Linked DNA regions of Homo sapiens: region 2 is linked to region 1. Evidence: fine-mapped expression QTL. A gene starts in region 1. The other region holds a variant in brackets. All regions are shown on one strand. Distances are from middle to middle. Region 1 holds the start of FBXO32 (F-box protein 32). Region 2 overlaps FBXO32 (F-box protein 32).

Region 1 (10,300 bases):
CTTGACCCTCTCTCAGAAAGAGAACCAGGCCCACATTTGAGGAATGCCAAATGATTCTCATTAAAGTAATGAGCATATTTTCAATGACATATGTCTGACCGCCTTTAATTTAGTTGGCAGGACTTGCGGCAGCCAGAGACCCAAAAATAACACACAGCTGGCCATTCCTGCTCACACACCTAACAGACGTATTTCACACTGTTTCAGGGATGCCCCACCCTAGACAGATGGGGTTTAAGGTCATATGCAAATTGTTGTGACATTAAACATACATTCCTTGTGACCACACTAACAGGTTGAATTTAATACACTGAATTCCTCTAGCTCCTCCTTTATAAAATTCCCTCTAACTTCAACAGATTTAGTTGATTTCTGCTCCTGCCCTACCCGACAAGCTAAAGTTATTTTTAACTTACAACTACTGCTGATAAGTATTTTTCACCAAAAAAAAAAAACCCTTTCAGAAAGAGAAACTATGAAAAAACAAAATATCATTGCACTTCAGTGAGAAGTAGTCAGTCCCTCAGCCAAAGCTATAAACGAATGTCATTTTGGTTTAGAAGCAACAAAATGTTTTTTTCACAGTCCTTTCTACAAACAATTTCTGTAAACAGTCTTATGAGGAAGTGGACGGGCTAAATTTATGTTGTGTGTACCTTTGAAAATACAGTCTTCTAGCCAGGCACGGTGGCTCACCCCTGTAATCCCAGCATTTTGGGAGGCTGAGGCGGGTGGATCACGAGGTCAGGCATTCAAGACCAGCCTGGCCAAGATGGTGAAACCCCATCTCTACTAAAAATACAAAAAAAGGCCAGGTGCGGTGGCTCACGCCTGTAATCCCAGCACTTCAGGAGACCAAGGCGGGCGGATCACCTGAGGTCTGAGGTCAGAAGTTCGAGACCAGCCTGGCTAACATGGAGAAACCCCGTCTCTACTAAAAAAAGATAAAATAAAATACACAAATTAGCCAGGCATGGTGGCAGGTGCCTGTAATCCCAGCTACTCGGGAGGCTGAGGCAGGAGAATCGTTTGAACCCAGGAGGCAGAGGATGTAGTGAGCCGAGATCACGCCATCGCACTCCAGCCTGGGGGACAAGAGTGAGACTTCGTCTCAAAAAAATACAAAAAAATAGAAAAAAAATTAGCTGGGTGTGGTGGCAGGCACCTGTAATCCCAGCTACTCGGGAGGCTGAGGCAGAGAATTGCTTGGACTCCGGAGGCGGAAGTTGCAGTGAGCTGAGATCACACCACTGCACTCCAGCCTGGGCAACAGAGTGAGACTCCATCTCAGAAAAAAAAAAAGAAAAGAAAAGAAAAAGAAAATATAATCTTCCACATGTTCTACAGAATAAGGCCCATTTCCATAGTTCAAGTAAGATGCAAGGAATTATTTCATTATACTTGTACCCCAATAGACACATTTGTCCCACATCTGGAAATTTGCTGAGTGAGCTACGCTCCATGCCCTCAAAACTTACAGTTTGATGGGGAAGGTGGACATGGCTTAACCGAGTAAAAGATGGAGGTGTAAACTTTGCATAAAGATAATGACAATAAAGACCCATTGTCATTGGCACTGTTAGAAGTTCTTCATACATATTATCTCAATAAATCCTCAAAACACCCTTTGAGGTAGGTACTATCATTATTTCCATTTTACAAATAAAGGAAGTATGGTACAGAGATGTTAAGTAACTTGCCCAAGATCACACAGCTTTTTAGGTGGGGAATGTGATTTGAACCCAGTGAGTCTGGCTCTAGTCAGGGTTAGAGATAAGCCTGGGTACCAGTTGGAGTCCCACCACATTTGCTAGGTGATCTCACGCAGGCTATTCAACTTTTCTGAGCTGAAGTTTCCTCATCTATAAAATGGGAATAGCAATTCCTAGCCCACAGGTTTATGAGGAGTATGTAACAGGATTGTGTTTGTGAAGTGACTGGCACACTGTCCTCAGCATGGCAGGCATCTATCATCAATGGAATAGGACATTAAAACATATTTTTTCTAAGATACCACCTTTTGACTACCTTCCCCATCTGCCTCACTAACCCATAAAGCATCACTATTGGAGAATGCAGCTATACGAGGTAGGACTGGGGGCTGCCAACCCTCCCTTTGCTCCACCCTGCTATGTCCCTAGAAGTAATAAAATGTCAACAGGTAAAGACATGGGAATAACAGCCTTCCAGGTCAGTTCAACAACATTTGTTGATTTTTTTTTTTTTTTTTTTGAGAAGGAATCTCACTCTTATCACCCAGGCTGGAGTGCAGTGGCGCGATCTCAGCTCACTGCAACCTCCACCTCCCGGGTTCCAGCGATTCTCCTGCCCCAGCCTCCTGAGTAGTTGGGATTACAGGCACCCACCACCACGCCTGGCTAAATTTTATATTTTTAGTAGAGATGGCGTTTCACCATGTTGGCCAGGCTAGTCTCAAACTCCTGACCTCAGGTGATCCACCTGCCTCAGCCTCCCAAAGTGCTGAGATTACAGGTGTGAGCCACCGCGTTGGGCCCATTTGTTGATTTGTTGATGTAAATGTACCGTGTACCAAGAACCTTATTAGACACTGTGGCACTAAACTCCTAAGACACAGCCCTGCCATCAAGGAGCTCACAGTCCTAGACAGGAGAAGAAAACACAAAAAATCAAACACCCAGTATGTAATCTGGGTAATGTGTTATACAAAACAGTGCAGGAAAGGCAGTAGCTAAGTGTCTAAGCAATGAAACACACAGCCATGGTACATACATCATGTACACTGCACACACCATTAGGCTACATGGGGTCCTGACCAGTCTGTGCTGTGCCTTGTGAAATTCTCTGAGTATCTATCTGTCTCTATGTCTTCAGCCTGAAGCTATAACATTGATATTTTGCTTTTGGTGATTCTCAAATGCTCAGCTATGATAGGGCTTACAATCACAGAGTCTTTACAAAGTTCAAGCCCCCATCTGATTTGAAGGTAACTGTTCTGGACATAGCCTAGCAAGTTCTTTATCTTGAGGGGTCCAGCATTACAAAACTTCCCAGTAGAAACCATGTTTAAATAAGTGTCAGCTGAGCATGGTGGCTCATGCCTGTACTCCTAGTAGTTTGGGAGGCCAAGGCGGGAGGATCACTTGAGGCCAGAGTTTGAGACCAGCCCGAGCAACATAGCAAGACCCCATCTCTCCAAAAAAAAAATGTTTTAATCAACCAGGCATGGTGGTGCACGCCTGTTGTCTTAGCTGCTCAGGAGGCTGAGGCAGGAGAATCACTTGAGCTCAAGAGTTCAAGGCTGCAGTGAGCCATGATTGCACCGGTACACTCTAGCCTGGGTGATAGAGCAAGACTCTGTTTCAAAAAAAAAAAAGAAGTCTCAAATTAGATTTTTTTATGGTAAGAGAAATCTGAAATAGTCAATCACACTTCAGAAGAAGCCTGCATTAAGATATGATAGCAACAATTCTGTTTGTTTGTTTTAAGGAACAGAAAGCGGAAGGACTAGAGACAAACACTGAGGCTTCCTAAGATTAGTTATTAGACAAAAAGACAAGGACAAAAATAATTGTAATTTCCTATTTGTGCTTGAATTTTAGAAGTTAAAGAAACTTTCACCAACTTTGAGCCACTCAACCCTTTATAGTAGTCAGCTATCGACACAATAATGCTGTGTAACAGTAAATCACAAAAATCTCAGTGGCATCAACAAGACACATTTATTTCTTGCTAACACATCTGTGAGGTCAACGGGAGTGTCTGCTCCATGTGTCACATCCTGGGACACACGGATGTCACTCAAACCACTCCAGGAGCAGTGGCTACACAGGGTATGCTCTTTTCATGGAGCAGGTGAACACACAAAACATCAAGACCAACCAGGCAAGTACATACATCAGATCCTCTGCTCACATCACATCCATCAGCATCCCCTTGGCTAAAGCCAGTCATATGGCCAAGCCCATTGTCAAGAATTAGAAAAATACACATCACCAAAAAGTGTGGGCACATGACGCTACTGGAAAGGAGGGAAGAATGGGTACTAATAATTCAATCTACCACAGCTTTTAAACCATCCTGAAAGGTAGGCATTATTGGCTCCATTTTTTCTTGACAGTTAAGTAAATGGGGCCCTAAGAGTTTAAGTCATTCATCCAAGGGAGGACAGGTAGTATGCTGCTCCAGCAGAATTAGAATTCAAAACTTCTACCTTCTGGCCCTCTGTGGTCTCTACAGGTATGTAGCCAGCTTACTAATACATAACTAACCCACATTGTTCATAATCACATCCCAGGCGGGCATGGTGGCTCACGCCTGTAATCCCAACACTTTGGGAGGCCAAGGAAGGAGGATCACTTGAGCCCAGGAGTTTAAGACTAGCCTGGGCAAGATAGCAAAACCCTATCTCTACAAAAAATATAAAAAATTAGCCTGGTGCAGTGGTGAGTGCCTGTAGTCTCAGCTACTGGAGACTGGGGCCGAGGTGGGAGGATGGCTTGAGCTGGGGAGGCTGAGGCTACAGTGAGCCATGATCACTCACTCTAGCCTGAGTGACACAATGAGACCCTGTCTCAAAAATAATAATAATAATAATCACATCCCTTAATTATGCAGATACCAATTCCCTCCAACAGAGACCAGACCCAACACTGCCTCATTTGTTAGCACCATCACAGTGTTTAACATTTGTTTGGGACTTCTTCAATGTTTTTACAAGCTTTTTTTTTACTATTACTACACTAATAAATTATTTACGGTGGGAAATCTAAATCAGAAAGCTCTGGCTTCTTGAAAACAAACTTTATTAAAAACGTCTTCCCAGTCCAACATGTAGCCTCATAGGGCACACACAATTTCTTTGCCTGAGCCTTAAAGATTACACCGAGTCAGTGGACTAGATGATATTGATGGCTGCAGAGAAAGAAGAATGGAAGAATGAAGTTTGAAGCTAATGCTTGAGTATGGGATTTTTACTCTGCTGCTGCTGTCCTGTGCAAACTAATTGCCAAATAGACCAGGCTGTAAAGCATCATAACTAGAGGTGATGAAGGGCAAGAAGCCACCCTCATGCCAGCAGCCTCCCGTATCCATTCACTTATTCACACAAATAGTTGTTGAAGGCCTGCACTGGGCCTGGCAGGGTGCAGGGGCTGAAATGCCTCCGGAACAAGACAGACCAGCTCTCATGGAGTTCCCACTGCAGACAGGGGTAGATTGTTGTAACAACAGCAAAAAGTAAAAGCAAACAGGGTAGTTTCAGATTGTACTGTAGCATTGGCCCTGGGTACATCATTTAACCCGTCTCTTAGAGGGTTCGGGTAGGATAGGGGCGCTGTTCTTTTTCTCCACTCCCAACCTGCGGGAGCCAGATACCTCCCAGGGCTTCCTCTCCTTCCCCTCCTTTGCTGCCCCAGGGGCAGGTCTGAAGGAGGACTGGTTAGTGACAGCTAAGGGGCCCGGAGGGCTGGGAGGCTGTCCCTCCTCCCCGCTCCAACCCCCGCGCGCTAGGGCGGGGTTGGGGCAGTGAGCGAGGTCAGGAGGCTGCGCCCCCTACTCCCCGCCCGGCGGGCGCGGTGCCGGCCCCAGCTCTGCGGACGGCCCGGGAGGCTGATCTGGCTGCGGAGGTCGATCCTGATAGCTCGGGGGCAGGAGGGGGGCTGGCCCTGCTCCTCACGCCCACCCCGCAGGGACCCAGACGCCCCTCCGGCCCCCTCCCTGCACCCCGTCAGCCCGGGAGCTGCAGGAGACCGGGGCGCATCTTTCCAAGCGCCGGGCCTCGCTCTGGGACAACGGTGTCCTGGGGGCGGGGAGGGCGCGCGGAGGTGCCAGGGGCGGCGGGGTACCCGGCCCGGCAGCACCGCTTCAAGTTTCCACCGGCGCGGTTGTGCAACCGGGAGGGGAGCGTGAGCCGCAGGCGCCTCGGAAAACAAGCCGAGCCCATAAACAAAGCCACGTGGCCTCCGGGCCGGGGGGCCGGGCTAAGAGCGGGCGGCTCTTCCGGCAACAAAGAGCTGCGGCCGGCTGCGGGGATAAATACTGCGGCAGCTACTGCCGCGCAGCACTCCCGGAGCCTGCAACGCTTGAGATCCTCTCCGCGCCCGCCACCCCGCAGGGTGCCCCGCGCCGTTCCCGCCGCCCCGCCGCCCCCGTCGCGGGCCCCTGCACCCCGAGCATCCGCCCCGGGTGGCACGTCCCCGAGCCCACCAGGCCGGCCCCGTCTCCCCATCCGTCTAGTCCGCTCGCGGTGCCATGCCATTCCTCGGGCAGGACTGGCGGTCCCCCGGGCAGAACTGGGTGAAGACGGCCGACGGCTGGAAGCGCTTCCTGGATGAGAAGAGCGGCAGTTTCGTGAGCGACCTCAGCAGGTGAGGGGACCCGCTACCAACTTCCAGCCCCCGCGAAACTGACCCGGGCTGGTCTGGGGGGCGCAGGGACGGCGAATGAGGGGCAGGCAGGGCTGGAGCGGGCTGAGGAGGGAGACCCTGACCCGGAGGGTGGGACTACGGGGCCCGATTTCTGCAGAGGTCTTCGGACCACCGGAGACAGGGAATTCGGTTTCTCTTATTGTTCAAGGTCAGTGTCTCCAAGTGGACACGACTCCTTACAGAACACCTGGTCCCTCTGAGAGTCTGATGACATTCGCGGATCGTGTCCCCAAACGTTCGCTCAAACTTAATCACACAGCTTTAGTGGTCCCTGCTTTAAGGACACCGGAGTCGCGCACTTTGCCCATGTGGGGGCGCGGGCGGGTGGGCTGAGCCCCTTCACCGCGGGGTGGCCCGGCTCCCAGCGCCCAAGCGCTGTGGACGCGACAGGTGACGGGATCCGACGAAGGTCCCGCCTGGAGCGCTTCCAGGCCCTGCCCAGGCACGGGCAACCACGAAGTGGCCGGGAGGATGAGTAACCAGGAAGGGACGGCCAGATGGTCCCTGGGGCAGCCGCTTACTGGGCGGACTTGCGAGCGGTGGAGGCTTGGGGCTGCAGAGGTGCAAAGGAGGGAAGGGGGCAGGGGATGAATCCCACAAGAGCTCTGCTTCTGGGAGGACAGGGCTCTTGCACCTGTTTCCTCGGTGGCCCTCTCGGTCGGTCTGCTTTGTATAGAGTGCACTCCGTTTCCAGGGGTGCCTGTCAGCTGCGAAAAGCCTGCCTGGCCCCGGTGAGCCTCTGGATTCGAGGCCTCACCTGAGCTCTGTGGTCTGGCGGGAAACCTGAGGTCCGCTGCGCTCCCTGCTCAGCTTGGCTAACGATGCCAGCGCCGGCTAGTACGCAAGGTAGCCTGGAATTTCTCAGCCCCTGACCTCGACAGTTGACTTTCAGAGACTCTCAGCATTTAGCCCGGTGAGCGGGGGCGATGAAAGTGATTCCAGAATGGACTGGTGCAGCCAGAGTCACCCTTGGGAGCCTTTTCCTGCCACCTTTGGTTAAAACCATGGGCCCCTGCACCCTTAAATTGACTTCAATGGAGAATTCTGTTTCTGGGCCAGGTTCCCGCTTACTGAGATTTACCAGTCGTTGCTTGGATGAAGCATTGGCAATAAATTTTGAGAAAACTATCAAGAAAATGTGGTTATTTTGGCAACTTGAACTCCCGTGCCTCCCATTTGTTTGTGATTTGTAATGCATCAAATTCCCATTGTCTCACAATGTAAAGAAAGACATTATTTAATTCTGGGGGTCTGTCCGGAGAGACTTGAGCGTATTAACCACCAGCATATAACCATTTACGTTGGAGTTACTTGGAGGCTGTCCCAGGGGAGTTTAGGGACCACCATAAGGAAATCTTATTTACGTAAAATCAAGTAATTTATTTACGGGAAAGTAAGACCAACTGCTATTGACAGACTATGTCTTTTATCGACTGGAGTTACCAATTATGCCTAAATTATTCTCCCTCAACAAAATGGGAACCTTCCTTCCTTCCTCCTTGTTCCTAAGGACAATGATCTAATATGTTGGTACTTTATTTCTGTATACAAGTTCAGGTTCTTTCTAGAAAAGTGCCGAAAGGGTCTGAAGAGTCATGTTAGAGCTGCTCACCCAAATATAATTGCAGGATGCTCCTCAGTGGAGAACAGATGATTGAGTTCAGCAGAAGATTTAAAATGTAGGGTCGTATTAATACTTACCCTACTCGGGAGGCTGAGGTGGGAGGATGGCTTGTGCTCAGAAGTTCAAGGCTGCAGCGAGTCATGACTGTGCCACTGCGCTCCAGCCTGGGCCACAGAGCGAGACCCTGTCTCTAAAAATAAATAAAAATTTAAAATTTGTTTTAAAATACCCTATACCGGCATCAGGAGAGAAACTGGTGTCACTCTCCTTTAGAAATAGTGGTATCTCTGTCTTCACAGTATGGAAGACCTGAAGATGGTCTTAACTTACCACAAAAGTTTAGACTGGGCTGGAATCAGGTGGTTTCCTGCACAGCCCCCCTCCCGTGTCCTGTTCATGAGCCTCTTTTTCTTCCCATTTCACACCTGAGCTGGAGCTGTCACATCCATCATCATTACCGCAAATAGTCATTGATATACTGACCACCTGTGGTCCTTTGAGTCAGCGTTTAGGAATCATTTGGTAGCCTCCTAGCAAAGCAGCTGGCTGTTTGTTTGCAGGGTATTTTTTTTTCCAGCAACTGTAAACAATCCCTTCCCTGCTTAGCATGAGAAGCCTGCAACTTCTTAAAAGCAGTTGGCCTTCTGTGGTCTGGGTTTGTCATCTCAAATATCCTCACTGTTTTTGGTCTTGGTGATGTTTCCCCGTGATGTCAGGTTTGGACTGCGTGCCTGCCTGCACAGGTGAAGCTGAATGCCTCTCCTGTTATGAGAAAACAAAAGGCAGGCCCTTAAGCGGGGAGGGACCGTGAAACAGAGAACTACAGAGACATGGTAGACTGACTTCTCTAATTCCACAGACCATTCTGCAAACGGCCCAAACAAGAGCCCGGGATGAAGGATGCATTTGGTGGTTTTCAGCCTGGGGTTATTGTTTCGTGTTGACCAAGTCTTGTCCACACAGCACACCTATTCTGGACTCAGCTGGCCATCTTCTCTGTGGTCTAGGACTCCAACCTTCTCCAGTGTAGAATGTTACAAATCCAGTCCCAGCCATGTGTCCAGGAGTGAGATCATGGGAGGATTTAAGATAAGCTTAAAGCAGGACCCCTTCTCAAAAATGTTGAAATTATATAAAATAGAAGGGGAATGGCAAGTGTTAAATATGCTGGGGCAGATTTAAAATGCAAGGAAAGAGCTTGGCGTGAATTGGGATGATCCAAGAATGCTTCAAGGAAGTGGTGGTTCAGGCACCCGCACAGCCTTCCTCAGCAACCACCCCCTCACCGCCCACCCCCAGGATGAGTAACCTAAGCTGTCTGAGCCTCTGCCACTCTTTTCTAAGCCTACACTTCTGTCATTGAAGACTGACTCAAATGTTACTTTACTGTATGGCTGAGGCTGGACCCGGAAGCAGGAAGTTTACCTTGGTGACTGGATAAAAATAATAGTTAAGATTTTATGAGTGCTTACTGTGTGCAAGGCACTGTTCTATGAGCGTTATACACTAGGCTGTTTGTTTCACCAGAGCATTCCGGGTGCTAGCCTTGTGAGTGTGGCGATCTAGAAATGCGTCAGTAAATTGGTGTAGAAATCTCTACTGGCTTTAATCAGGCTATATAACTACAATTAAACCTCTGGGGGCACGTCACAGCTTTCTTAAATGGTTTTTATTGCAAATGAAATGAGAAATAGGGCTTTATTTTTTTTTTCATTCCCTTCTTTATCTGCTGCCAAAACAGACTTATTTATGGTCTGATTTTGAATTTTTTCTACATTTTTAAAAAGTTGCCTTAAAGTATCTTGGTATGTGGTAATGTGGGGCTGTGCAGTGGATCTTTTTCTTATTCTAGGCCTGTGCCTATAAAAATCAAGATTAGTAAATAGTGACTACAAAATAGCGACTTGCTGGCTATTATTGAATTTAGTGAAGAAAGCAGCCTCGTTGAGATGGTTTTGCTTATTAAAAAAAAAAAAATCCTGTGCTCCAATTCCTAAATGGTGGTGGTTTTTCTTGTTAAAAATTTCAGTTGTAATTTTCCATTGGCTTTGCATTTTCTTGAAAAGGACACGATTGAACTCTCAAAATAGCCTCTAACTGAATATATTATTGCTTAAAAGAAAACTTATAAGTAGGCAACACAAATAAACCCCATAGCCCTTCTTTCCAGGCCCTTCCTCCGGAATCTAAAACCTAATACCAAGTGAAAATATAGGGTTTCTCTTTGGTTAAAACTTTTCTACATTCTACGGTGAGAGAACATCATCAA
Region 2 (8,000 bases), 25 kb after region 1:
CAACAGGGAGGTTTTTGCATAAGATGGCCAGGGAAGGGCCCTCTGAGCCCGGGGCAGGCCACGTTTGAACTGAGACCTGAGGGATGGGATGGAGCCGAGCATGTAAAGATGTGGCAGAGGCAAAGGCCCAGAGGTGAGAATAAGCTTGGCCTATTCGAGAGACGAATAACCTGTGTAGCCGGAGCAGAGTGAATTTGTGCAAAACTAGGCTGGAAAAGGGGTAGAAACCAGATCAGGGAGAACCTTGCCAGTCATGGTAAGGAGCTTGAGTTTTTTCCTAAGCGCAAGGAGAAGCCATTTGAGGATTTTAAGCAAAGAAGTAACGTGAACTGATGGATTTTTAAAACTATGAATGCTATGCTAAAATAAACTGTAGGGAAGAAGACGTAAGAAGCCTGCTCTTGATACGAGAGCAGTGAGATAAGAGGGAAATCTCTCTTCTGCCCATTCGTCTTGCACACACCACTTCAAACTTTGGTTGATATCCGCTCTGAGATTTGCTATACGATATTGCTTGCAACTAGATTTGTCTCCTATTCGTTGCCTCCAGAACTAGCATGAGCCAAAGCTGAAGGGCAGGATGTGGTTTCAGCATGCGGTGACCACCATCCCTCCCTCCAGTAGCTCAGAGCCATTCCTGGTACTGCACGGCTCGTCACTGCAGATCATGCCGGATGCCCAGAGTGCCCACACGATAATGACACCACGGAATTCCAGAGGAGCCGAGAAGCCTCCTCCTCCTTCCCCTTCCCTCCCCCTGCCTCTCTTTAAACATAGCCACAAATTACTAGCACCTGGGCTAAAATTTGCCCAGTCAAAAACAAGCAGCCACTTCCAAACAAGACATTTTCCTCTGTTCTTTTTTTCTCTTGTGGCTAGGGGCAAAGAATCCAATTGGCTAAGTCATCCTGGTACACAGATTGCTAGATACAAACCTACTTTCCTAGGCACGCAGCTCTCTTAACACAAATAAAATCGATAAATTTGGGCTGTGCGCGATGGCTTACGCCTGTAATCCCAACACTTTGGGAGGCCAAAGCAGGCAGATCACCTGAGGTCAGGAGCTCAGGACCAACCTGGCCAACATGGTGAAACTCGATCTCTACTAAAAATACAAAAATTATCCAGGTGTGGTGGCGGGTGCCTGTAATCCCAGCTACTCAGAAGGCTGAGGCAGGAGAATCATTTCAACCTGGGAGGTGGAGGTTGCAATGAGCCGAAATCACGCCATTACACTCCAGCCTGGGCAACAGAGCAAGACTCTGTCTCAAAAATTAAAAAATTTAAAAATCGGTAAATTCTGCTCTCTTCACTACTAGTTCCATACATCACTACCTAGTAGTAGCTCTGGGCCTATAGAGTGATGCTGATGTGGAAAGTAGACTCTGTGGTTTACCCAAAGCAGTTGCCTCATCCTAAATGTGCTGGTAGCACTTTCTGAGCATTACAGTGCCCTTAATATTAAAAGTTGTTTACCAGTCACAACATATTATTATATAAAATTTCTTTTTTTTTTTTTTTTTTGAGATGGAGTCTTGCTCTGTCGCCCAGGCTGGAGTGCAGTGGTGTGATCTCAGCTCACTGCAAGCTCTGCCTCCCGGGTTCACGCCATTCTCCTGCCTCAGCCTCCTGAGTAGCTGGGACTACAGGCACCCGCCACCGCATCCGGCTAATTTTTTGTATTTTTAGTAGAGATGGGGTTTCACCATTAGCCAGGATGGTCTCGATCTCCTCACCTCGTGATCCGCCTGCCTCAGTCTCCCCAAGTGCTGGGATTACAGGCGTGAGCCGCCACGCCCAGCCCAATATTATATAAAATTTTCTAGACTCTGTTTCCCCAGAACATAACAATAAATGGTATTGCTCCCATTTTGGAGTAAAATTTGGCCCTCCATGCAAATTGATTGGCCTTGACAAACTGAAGTCCTGAAACTGTCAGAATATATGTTCTGCCAGGCACAGTGGCTCATGCCTGTAATCCCAGCACTTTGCGAGGCTGAAACACGAGGATCGCTTGATCCCACAAGTTCGAGGCCAGCCTGGGTAACTAGGAAGACCCTGTCTCTACAAATAGAAATAAAAAAAATTAGCCAGGCATAGTGCTGTGCCCCTGTGGTCCCAGCTACTTGGGAGGCTGAGGTGGGAAGATAGCTTGAGCCTCGGAGGTAAAGGCTACAGTGAGCCATGACTGTGCCACTGCACTCCAGCCTAGGTGACAGAGTGAGACTTTGTCTCAACAAAAAAAAAAGAAAATGTGTTCTCTGTTAGACATATCTGGGCTCAAGTCCTGGCTCCAGCATTTGCTACTGCTGGTATGGCTTTAGGTGAGTACTTCTCTGAGCCTCAATATCCTCAATGGTTAAATGGAGAAGCTATCTCACTGGGTTGCTGTAAAAGATAAACAAGATTACAAATGTATAGTGCTTAGCTGCAGTTGCTGACACATAGTAAGCACCCCATTGTTATTGTTATTGTTAGCAAAATAAGACTCCATGGTAGAAAAACTATGCAAGTCATAAAATGTATCAGCATTAACTTTTATCAACAGATAGGGTGCTATTAAATGTATCACCAACATAGTAAAATGACAGAAAGGAATATTACAGTGTGAAAGCATTTATTTATTTGTTTGACAACAGCTACAATTGAAATACAGCAATTCTGAAGGTCTTTAAATGGGTTGCACTTTGCCCTGTTAACTCACTATTTCCTGATTGGCAATAATTTTACTTGGTAATGCTCTGTATTATGGTAAAAGCTAACAATAATAATTTATCGAGTATATTCTTTGTAGCAGGCACAGTTATGAGTGCTATGTGAATACATTTAATCTTCACAGCAACTTTGAAGTAGGTACTATTACTGTGCATATTTTGAAGATGGGAAAACTGAGGCAGACAGTTTGCCTCTGGAGCCCTCACTCTTAAACTCTTATGATATATACCAGAAACTGTGACATAGCCCAGGTGCCAAATCTGGCCCTCCACCTGCTTTTGTAAATAAAGTTTTATTGGAATACACCCATGCCCACTCATTTACACATTGTCTATAGCCATTTCGGTGCTATAGCTTCAGGGTGGAGTAGTTGCTACAGAGACCACGTGGCCCACAAACCTTAAAACACCTACTGTTTGGCACTTTGCAGAAAAAGTTTGCTAACCCCTGATGTCAACTTTAAACTTCACAAAAAGACTGGAGTTTAAAGGGAAAGAAATAATATCTTATAATAAAAATGCCTTATGTTTGGTATTTACTGTGGATTTGTACATATTTATCTTACTTAATTCTCATAGCAATCCTGTGAAGTAAGTAGTCTTTTTATTTCCATTTTAGAAATGAAGAATCAGGAGTTCAGAGGGATTAAATGACTTACACTCTAGGCTGAAGAGCAAACTCCATGAGTGTAGGGATCATGTGTCTTCATCATCATGTCCCTGTCACCTACCACGATGCTAGCACAGGGTGGACACTCAGAAAATACTTGCTAAATGAATGACAGTTACAAAGGTCACCCAGCTAGAGAATCCAGGTCTTCTCCTCTTCCAGGGTTCTTTCTCCTGACTCCACAGCTGTCTGACAGTTAAAAAAAAAAAAAAAGGT[A/G]GGGGGGACTTTCCCTTGAGATAGGATGAAGCACAGAATGGTTAACATGTCGTTATGCTGTCAGTTGACAAATTTTTGCTGCTATATTCCTCCTTCTCCTTAGAGAAGATAATCAGACCAAAGACAGTTCGTTTCTCCTCCAGTGCACAGTCATAGTGTTGAGAGTTTACTTGTCCTTGTGATTGGTGCATATTTTGACAAGATTAAAACTGACACCCTCATGAGATGGTAGTCACATGGAATCTGGGTTTTGGATGGATTTCAGGCAGAGCTCTGGCTGCCTTCCTCCCAACCCCTTGCCCCACCTCCTACCCAGTGATGAGTCACAGTGCACAGCTGACTGCCCTTCAAAAGCCGACCCGAGGCTTTTGTTTTCTTTCATCTGCTTCATGTTGGTCATGTGAGGATCAGGGTATTAATAGACCATCATCTTGGCCTTCCGAATCTTGCTGTTGGTCAGGGAGGTAAATGAAAGGTTTGGCCAGTCCCTTTGTGCCATTTTCACTCCTCTCTTGACTGTCACGTGCTGGTTGGTGGCAAAGCTAAACCACAGCATTCGGTGTGGTCACCGCCCATGGCCATGGTCTCTACTGGTGTTTTGATTTCCCGCCTCTTTCAGCAGACACTCGGTGAGCTCCTGACTTCCAACTAGATCACCAGTACTAATTGCAACAAACCACCTCCTCCTCCCAGTCAGCTAGCCTCATCTCTCCCTGCATGTGGAAAAGATACAGAAGCCAGGGAGAAAAAGGAGTTTGGTTTGGGGGTGGCTTTTTTTAATATGTAAAGTAAAATTACATTCAGGAAATTAAAAGTCTGTGTGTGGTTTAACAGGCTCCTAAAGAGCTCCACGGGGACAAACATGTTATGCAAATGCCATGGAAGCAGAGGTGCTCTGAATTGCCTAGGCCGTTGATCCAAAAGTTTCCATTCTCCTCTGCAACCCAATCTTTAAAATTTCATTTTGCTTCTTCCCTCAGCCTTGATTCCAGCACCCACCACAGTGTCATGCTCAGTGTTTATTGATCTGAAATGAAGCTGGGCTGAGGCCTGGCCAGGAGATGAAACTCTCTTAGAAAGTTTCCTAGGAGCGGAGATTCTAGCTTCAGTGTAAAGGAGGGGTCTCGGTTCTCTGTGTCTAGTCTACTGAGTCTCAGGCTAGTTATTACCACAATTACTTTTGCACCAGCCTAATAGTTTTCTCTGGGGGCCTGGTGGGTTCTCGTGAAGTTAATTACTTTCACTTTATATCAACCTCTTTTGTTTGTTAACTCTTTGAAAGCATGAAGTGTGATATTTTCCTGTGTTGAGAAGGACTCTGCTGAGTCCTCACTAGTTGTGGAGTGGCTCATAAGGTGGGTCTCTTGAGCCTCGCTTTGCTCATCTGTTAAGTGGATTAAACTAGATGGTCTCTTAAGATTCCTTCCAGTCTAAAGTTTCATTTTTCAACAATAGGATCTTTGTTTTTTATTTTTTATTTTTTAAGATGGAGTCTTGCTCTGTTGCCCAGGCGAGAGTTCAATGGCACGATCTCGGCTCACTGCAACCTCTGCCTCCTGGCTTCAAGCAATTCTCCTGCCTCAGCCTCCTGAGTAGCTGGGAGCACAGGCATGTGCCACCATGCCCGGCTAATTTTTTGTACTTTTAGTAGAGATGGAGTTTCACATGTTGGCCAGGCTGGTCTTGAACTCTTGACCTCGTGATCTACCTGCCTTGGCCTCCCAAAGTGCTGGGATTACACGCATGAGCCACCGCACCTGGCCTTTATTTGTTTTTTAATCTTGCCATGTCAGTAAAGAATTTTGCTATAGAAGGTAAAAAAGATTGGACTAAGTACGCACTAACTTCAGTTATTATCTTCATTTATTTTTGTCTGGCAATTATGGGGTTGGTAGGAATGGGACATACTTTTTCAACAAACAAACTGGCGGGGCGCGGTGGCTCATGCCTGTAATCCCAGCATTTTGGGAAGCCAAGGCAGGTGGATCACCTGAGGTCAGGAGTTCGAGAGCAGCCTGGCCAACGTGGCAAAACCCTGTCTCCAATAAAAATACAAAAAAAAAAAAAAACTGTTAGCCAGGCGTAGTGGCACATGCCTGTAATCCCAGCTACTCAGGAGGCTGAGGCAGGAGAATCACTTGAACCTGGGAGGCGGAGGTTGCAGTAAGCTGAGATTGCACCATTGCACTCCAGCCTGGGCAACAGAGCAAGATGCCGTCTCAAAAAACAAAACAAAGAAAACCCTTTATTTAGCACCTAATTAGTGCCAGGTACTTGCTGAGGGCTTTATGTGCATTCTCCTATTATCACTCACAACAACCTTGTATTATTGACTCTACCTTGTATTAAAGGTATTAAATACTCAACCTTGTATTAAAGACTCTAAATATTATTAGTATAGATGAACAAACTGGGTGGGGCACCAAGAAATATAGTAACTTGCCCATCATCACGGAGCTAATACATGTTCAAATCAAGACCTGAATCTAAGGCCAAGAGCTACAAGGATCCAAGTTTTTAGCCACAGTGACATCATATAAAATACATCCCTGAATTTCTCTCTCTTCCTGTGATTGGCGTCTTTCTACAGAAATGTAAGTGCAGTGAAAGAGTCTAATTAATAGACATGTTTATTGAACACTGCAGAAGCAGGAGGTATCAGGATAAGACTCTCCACTTCCATGGAAAAAGTGCACATGGCTGCTGAAGATGGGCTTTAGGTGCCTTGAGAGCAGTCAGTGCCAATAAGGAAGAAGTTCAAGCGGGGGCAGAAGAATTCCCCCGGGAGGTGATTCTGCAGAACTCAGCCATTCACAGGTCATGGGAGATTTTGTTCCCTTCAGGGTACGTCAGCTTCACTTGCTGAAGTAGGACAAGTAGATTGAATTAGCCCTGGCTGAAGCCAAAATTCTTTATATTTAAAAGAAGAAAAGCAATTAAATATTCAACCCAATCCTGGGTTTTGAATTACCCCATTTATCTTTCACTCTGAGCATCTGCTTTTTATTGCATTGTGGCCCTGCCTGCCATTTATCTCTCCCCGTCAGTCTGTATCCACGTGTCATGGGACTCAAAAGTGAAGATTAGAGGAGAAAAATATCTCTGTACTCTAAGCCTGGCAACTTCTATTTTTATCCTCAGCTGTTGGAGCTGATAGCAAAGTCACAGCTCACATCCCTGAGTGGCATCGCCCAAAAGAACTTCATGAATATTTTGGAAAAAGTGGTACTGAAAGGTGAGCCTTCTCTCACTCTCTCGCCCCTTTTTATAGGCATGGAGGTGGGCAGATGGATTTTCCAATGAAGTGGACGTGTCATTAGACTTAAAGACATGTGAATGGATGGAAATGAATAACTCCAGCTACATTTTAGAGACACTAAATTCCAGTTCGGAAAGGGGTACAACTCATCCTCATGGCAAAGGGTGAGACCATCACCCTCCTGTCCTTTCTTTGGGACCATCCACTTGCCCTACTATAAGCCTCGTAGGCTTCTCAGTGTAGACACAGGTCCCAACACTGGCTACCGAGCCTCCGGGTCCCAAATTCCTAGAAAATCGACATGTGTACAAAGTCAGAATAGATTCGTAGACTATTCGAGCTAGAAGGAACCTTAGGTCTCTGGTTCAACTGACTCATTGTACACATGGTGAAACTGAGGCCCATGAGGAGAAGTGATTTGTCCATAATCACACAGAGAGTCAGCCAGACAGGATTAGAACCCAGGCTCCAAACCCCTGAAACCATGCTCCTTCCACTGACTGTCCTAAACGGGGTCACTTCTGGGCAAAAGGAGTGGCTTTCTGATCAGGTGAACCATGGCTGCTGGGAGAACAATGAAAAGAGAAAGAGGCTTTATAGAAAATGAGAGAGAAGAGAACAAAGAGGGACCTAGATAATGGAAACTCTACCCTTTAACCTCAAGTGCAGAAGCTTGGCCAAGCGTACAATAAACACTGGTGAGGAAGAAAACCATATCCCCAGAGGCAGTGCCTGGGTAACATGAGTGGAATACAGACAGAGACAAGCTCATGTGTAAAATACAGGGTGTTCCAGTATCATAACTTTAATTATTTTTTTCTTCCCTACTCAAGTCCTTGAAGACCAGCAAAACATTAGACTAATAAGGGAACTACTCCAGACCCTCTACACATCCTTATGTACACTGGTCCAAAGAGTCGGCAAGTCTGTGCTGGTCGGGAACATTAACATGTGGGTGTATCGGATGGAGACGATTCTCCACTGGCAGCAGCAGCTGAACAACATTCAGATCACCAGGGTAAGCGGGCAGGCCCAGCCTCCTCCCGGCAGTGGGTCCCTCCACAGGGATACTGGACAGACTCGCCAAGACTTTGAATTCACTCCTGTGACGGAAGAGTCTGGTCTTTTCTGATCTGCTGCT

What was found.
Region 2: its variant is fine-mapped to the expression of FBXO32 in blood mononuclear cells (TOPMed, PIP above 0.99).

What each region holds. Positions count from the first base shown.
Region 1 is chr8:123,536,946-123,547,245 of GRCh38, reverse strand. FBXO32 (F-box protein 32) reads left to right here and starts at 6,040. Exons shown (of 9, transcript NM_058229.4): 1 at 6,040-6,347. The coding sequence starts at 6,232. RefSeq lists silencers at 5,514-5,803, 5,894-6,003, 6,054-6,143.
Region 2 is chr8:123,513,075-123,521,074 of GRCh38, reverse strand. FBXO32 (F-box protein 32) reads left to right here. Exons shown (of 9, transcript NM_058229.4): 5 at 6,742-6,835; 6 at 7,693-7,877. Among named protein-coding and RNA genes, the nearest start is that of FBXO32, 24 kb to the left of the region's middle. The variant A/G (reference allele first, on the strand shown) is at 3,601.